Regions from separate parts of the Homo sapiens genome. Here region 2 is linked to region 1. Evidence: fine-mapped expression QTL. Tissue or cell type: whole blood. Region 1 holds a variant in brackets; the other region holds the start of a gene. All regions are shown on one strand. Distances are from middle to middle.

What was found. PIP is the estimated chance that this variant, and not a neighbour inherited with it, causes the effect.
Region 2: ZNF559 starts here. The variant in region 1 is fine-mapped to the expression of ZNF559 in whole blood (INTERVAL, PIP 0.99).

Annotation. Positions count from the first base shown.
Region 1 is chr19:9,130,565-9,133,251 of GRCh38, reverse strand. No RefSeq gene overlaps it. Among named protein-coding and RNA genes, the nearest start is that of OR7G3, 5.0 kb to the right of the region's middle. The variant C/T (reference allele first, on the strand shown) is at 1,128.
Region 2 is chr19:9,323,102-9,325,788 of GRCh38, reverse strand. It overlaps ZNF559 (zinc finger protein 559), which reads right to left and starts at 1,610. Exons shown (of 7, transcript NM_032497.3): 1 at 1,561-1,610; 2 at 1,009-1,094. ZNF559-ZNF177 (ZNF559-ZNF177 readthrough) reads right to left here and starts at 1,610. Exons shown (of 13, transcript NM_001384659.1): 1 at 1,561-1,610; 2 at 1,009-1,094. RefSeq lists a silencer at 1,207-1,346 and an enhancer at 1,517-1,766.

The DNA of each region.
Region 1 (2,687 bases):
ACCATCACTGCACCATTTCATACCCTATCAACTTTAGGTTTTGTTCTTCATTTGTTTCAGACTGGGTTTGGGCTTTATCTGCATTTTGTCAACATTATGTCACCATTTCTTTTCCAAAAACTTACTGTACTAGGCCATTATTGTGTTGGTATAAAGAAATACCTGATGCCAGGTGCGGTGGCTCGTGCCTATAGTTCCAGCACTTTGGGAGGCCGAGGTGTGTGGATCACTTGAAGTCAGGAGTTTGAGACCAGCATGGCCAACATGGTGAAACCTCGTCTCTACTGAAAATATAAAAATTTGCCAGGTGTCGTGTGTGCCTGTAATCCTAGCTACTCTACTCAGGAGGCTGAGGCAGGAGAATCGCTTGAACCTGGGAGGCGGAGGTTGCAGTGAGCTGAGATCACGCCACTGCACTCCAGCCAGGGCGCAGAGTGAGACTTGGTTTGAAAAAAAAAAAAAAAAAAAAAAGCAATTTCTGACTCAGAGAAAGCTGGGATTCTGTCTAAGGAGGATTCCACCAGCTCCCTAGGGGTCCGATCCTAGGATCCAAGAATGAGATACCCTCGGGATAAGAGGAAATGTGGTTGGAAGAGAATGACATACAGCTTGTCCCTTGGGGTCAGAAAGTCAACCATCCAGGAATTCCCCCTTTGTGCTCACGTCTGACCTGTGCTCATTAAGGATTTGAGCTGCCTTAGGGGAAGAAATGACAGTACTGTACACATCTAGCTAATGAGCAGCTTTGAAAATTGAGCTCCTAGGGGCCACAGAGACTGCAAATAATCTACCGGTGACCACTCCACTCAACAGCCCCGCTCATGTTAGGAAACATCACACCTGAGTCTTGCTCCAGAGATGATCCCTCTTGCCCAAGAGTGGGTTGCCTTACTTGGTTCATCTGCCCTTCTTGGGGATAGATCTTCCATTTCATCTTACAATTCTCCAAGAAAAAAAATGGAGAATTCCTTACTGATGCCTTCAAGGTAATCTGAAATGCTCCCAATAAATGCTGTGAGAAACTGAACAAGTTTTTTATTTTATTTTTTCTCCCATCTTATCTGGAGGACAACCATAAAGTAAGAGACAATTCAGCAGAATTGTTATAAGTGAGATTCCAAACTAAT[C/T]GGTGACCCTTTTCATGATATATTTACTTCCCCTGTTTTCTTACAATTTATAATCAGATTTCATTATTTTCAGCTCTCATTCTGTCTTCTAAATCCTAGGGACTCCTTCCCTACCTAAGTATGAATTAGTCCCTTCAAAAAGGAATCTGGCCAAGTGCGGTGGCTCACGCATGTAGTCCCAGCACTTTGGGAACCAAGGCGGATCAATCACCTGAGGTCAGGAGTTCAAGACCAGCCTGGCCAACATGGTGAAACCCCATCTCTACTAAAAATACAAAAATTTAGCCGGGCATGGTGGCATGCACCTGTAATCCCAGCTACTCAGGAGGCTGAGGCAGGAGAATCGCTTGAACCCGGGAGGCAGAGGTTGCAGTGAGCTGAGATGGCACCACTGCATTCCAGCCTGGTGACAGAGCAAGACTCTGTCTCATAAAACAAACAAATAAACAAAAGGAATCTACAGTTCTCTGGTTTTCCACATTCTTTTTTTTATTTTTTGAGAAGGAGTCTCGCTCTGTCACCAGGCTGGAGTGCAGTGGCTCCATCTCAGTTCACTGCAACCTCCGCCTCCTGGGTTCCAGCGATTCTCCTGCCTCAGCCTTTTGAGTAGCTGGGATTACAGGCGCCCACCACCATGCCTGGCTAACTTTTGTATTTTTAGTAGAGATGGGGTTTCACCAAGTTGGCCAGGATGGTCTTGATCTCTTGACCTCGTGATCCGCCCACTTTGGCCTCCCAAAGTGCTGGAATTACAGACATGAGCCACCATGCCTGGCCCCATGGTTTTCCTCATTCTTTTGACTGCAGATGGGGCTTTGATGAGATGTGTCTGGCTTTTCAATCTTCACCATGTCTGTTGCCAGATTTCACCCTTAAATAACTTGACTCTTGTCCCCATCTCTTGACAGTGAGAAACTCCAGAAGAGGAAGTTGAGACCCACTCACTTACATTTCCAGTCTTTCGGTTTCTCTTTTAAAACCCCAAAACAGGCCAGATGTGGTGGTTCATGCCTGTAATCCTAGCACTTTGGGCTTACAGGCATGGGCAACATAGCAACATAGCCTGGGCAACATAGCAAGAGCTCATCTCTGCAAAAAAAAAAAATTTTTTTTAATTTTAAAAATAGATTTAAAATACTAAATATAATAATAATAACAATAAAGTATAACACTTAAACATGAAGTCCTCTTGATTTGTTTTTATTCCTCTCCTTCCCTTCCTGGGGACCACCACTCTCTGAAATTGGTGGGCATTCACTATGCTTAGTTTAACACTATTATTACATGTAATAATAGTGCCATAATTTGTGTATCTATCCCCATACTGATGTTTGTTTAGCTTCTTTCTTTCTTACTTTATTTTGAGACAGGATCTCACTCTGTCACCCAGACTGGAGTACAGTGGCTCAATCACGGCTCACAACAACCTCGACCTCCTGAGCTCAGGTGATCCTCCTACCTCAGCCTCCTGAGTAGCTAGGACTATAGGTGCATGCCACCATGCCTGACTAGTTTTTGTATTTTTTGTAGAGATGGGGTTTCACCATGTTGCCCAGGCTG
Region 2 (2,687 bases), 190 kb before region 1:
TTGGAGACGGAGTCTCGCACTGTTGCCCAGGCTGGAATGCAAGGGTGCAATCTTGGCTCACTGCAACCTCTGCCTCCCAGGTTCAAGCGATTCTCCTGCCTCAGGCTCCTGAGTAGCTGGGATTACAGGTGCCCACGCCCGGCTAATTTTTTGTATTTTGAGTAAAGACGGGGTTTCACTATGTTGGCCAGGCTGGTCTCAAACTCCTGACCTCGTGATCCGCCAGCCTCAGCCTCCCAACATGCTGGGATTACAGGCGTGAGCCACCACACCTGGACTAAAGACATTTGTTTTACTCGAGCTACAGATGTTCTCTAGATCAGTATTTGTTTTTTTTTCTTCTTTTTGAAACAGGGTCTCACTCTGTTGCCTAAGCTGGAATGCAGTGACACAATAATGGCTCACAGCAGCCTCGACCTCCCATGCTCAAGTGATCCTCGCATCTCGGCCTCCAAAGTGGATGGGACCACAGACACCACCATGCCCAGCTAATTTTTTATTTTTAGTAGAGACAGAGGCTTGCCCTATTTTTTCCAGGTTGGCATCAAATTCCTGGGCTCAAGCGATCCTCCAGCCTCAGCCTCCCAAAACGCTGGGATTACAGGTGTGAGCCACCTTGCCCCGCCCTCAGTAAGACTTTCAAATGAGTAACTGGTAGAAAACCCACCTGTCAAAAGTTATCTTCGCATTCATTATCAATTCAATCCCTCCTGCTAGTAAATCAGCCCGCACCGTGTTCCTGGGGATGCCCTCGTTTTGAACCTCTGGGGGAATCTACAGGGCGCTAGAGTGAGATCTAGGTGATGGCCTGGAACCACAGTTGAGTAGTCCTGTGTTTTTCCTTGGTGGTAAATTTTACAGTTATGTGCATTCATCCACTCATGCATTCGATGGTATCAGATCCATGTGCTCTCGAACAACCACCTGAAAAGGTTTCTTTCCACCTCGACACAACTTAAACTTCAAGACCCGACACCCACAGCCAGAACAAGTGCATGAAGTGCTCACCGGGACACGACAGAATTGTCAGGTTGCTGAGGCCAGGAGGACACCAAGCGAAGGTCACCGTGAACAGGAAGGCAGAGATGCTGTTCCTTATAGAGAAAAGGCACAACGCTGGATGTGGAGACTTTTTTTTTTTTTTCCATTAGAGATGGTTGGGGGGGGGGGTCTCCCTATGTTGCCCTGCCTGGTCTTGAACTCCTGGCCTCAAGTAATCCTCCTACCCAATCCGCCCAAAGCGCTGGGAATGACAGGCGTGAGCCGCCGCGCCGGGCCCTATGAGGCTTCTGCAGAGGGGAGCAGGGAAAATGGAAAGGCCGTGCCCCCCGCCTCCTCCCGGGCCGAGGCCCCAGCGCAGCCGCCTCGACCCCTGAGGACAGACCTGACTGTGGCTCTCAGAGGAGGGGCCGCGACTTGGGAGAGCCCACAAGATGCTCGAAATGCCCGAAAGTGCACGGGACAGGCTCCATTTCACTGGGCACCTCCCCTTTCCACCCTTCTACTCTCGCGTGGCTGCACCGGGACACCACCGAACGCCGCCCAGAAACAAAAACTTACCTCAGACGCCAACGGGAACGCGCTGTTAAGATGGCGGCCGTTATGCGCATGCGCCCACGCAGACACGCCGCGCACGCGCAAAGGCTAGGACCACCTAGGGGGCGGGGCCTCGGGTTCCCGGGCCCATCAGCTGCTGCGGCTTTTTCCAACCCAGAGCTGAGAGGAAATGCTGTTTACCTCCCCGAAGAGCGCAAGTGTCACCGGTAGGGGGTCTTGACTGCAAGCTGTCCAGGTTACTGGCGTTTTGAACAAAGAATTAGACAAAACGCCCAGCAAAGCAAAGAAAGAATGAAGCAACAAAAGAACAAGAGCTGGGATTTGTTGAAAACGAAAGCATACTCCACAGTGTGGGAACTGGCCAAGCGGCAGCTCAAGGGCTCCGAAACAGAACCTTCATGAGTCCCAATACCTCCTAGAATTTTCCCATTGGCCACTTCATGCTCACCTCCTGTAAATGAAGCGGTAGCCCGCGTTCAGTCTGATTGGTTGCAGAAAGCAGCCAACCAGAGTCTGAAGTTACAAAGGTCACACTCCTGTGCAAACATCTGATTGGTTGCAAAAAGCAACCAATCAAAGGCTAGGGTGAAGTTACGACGTTACAAAGTTACACTTCTATGCAAATGAAGACTCAACCGGCCATCAGTCTGATTTGTTGCAGACAGCCAATTTCCTATCTGCCAGCAGAAAAGGTCAAAGGGAGTAGCCTCTGGTCCTTTTGTTATTTAGGCGAGGAAAGTGAGGGTTTTCCTTTCAATTTAGTTCTAGGAAGTCGGCCTGAAACAGCCTTAAGTTCCCTGCCTCCCGACTCTATTCAGCCTCACAAGGGCTTGATTTTTGGTCATCTCACACTCAGAGACTAGAATGCTCCTATTGGAATTTGTTCAAAAATTAGCACATAGAGGCTGGGCCTGATGGCTCACGCCAGTGATCCCAGCACTTTGGGAGGCTGAGGCAGGCAGACCACTTGAGCTCAGGAGTTCGAGACCAGCCTGGGCAATATGGCAAAACCCTATTCCTATAAAAAAGACAAAAAACACAAAAATTAGGACGTAGTTAAGAGCATAGATAAGATTCATGCGGACTTCCTAAAAGTGAAAACACCAAGATCTGGGGTCGGGGAATCTAAG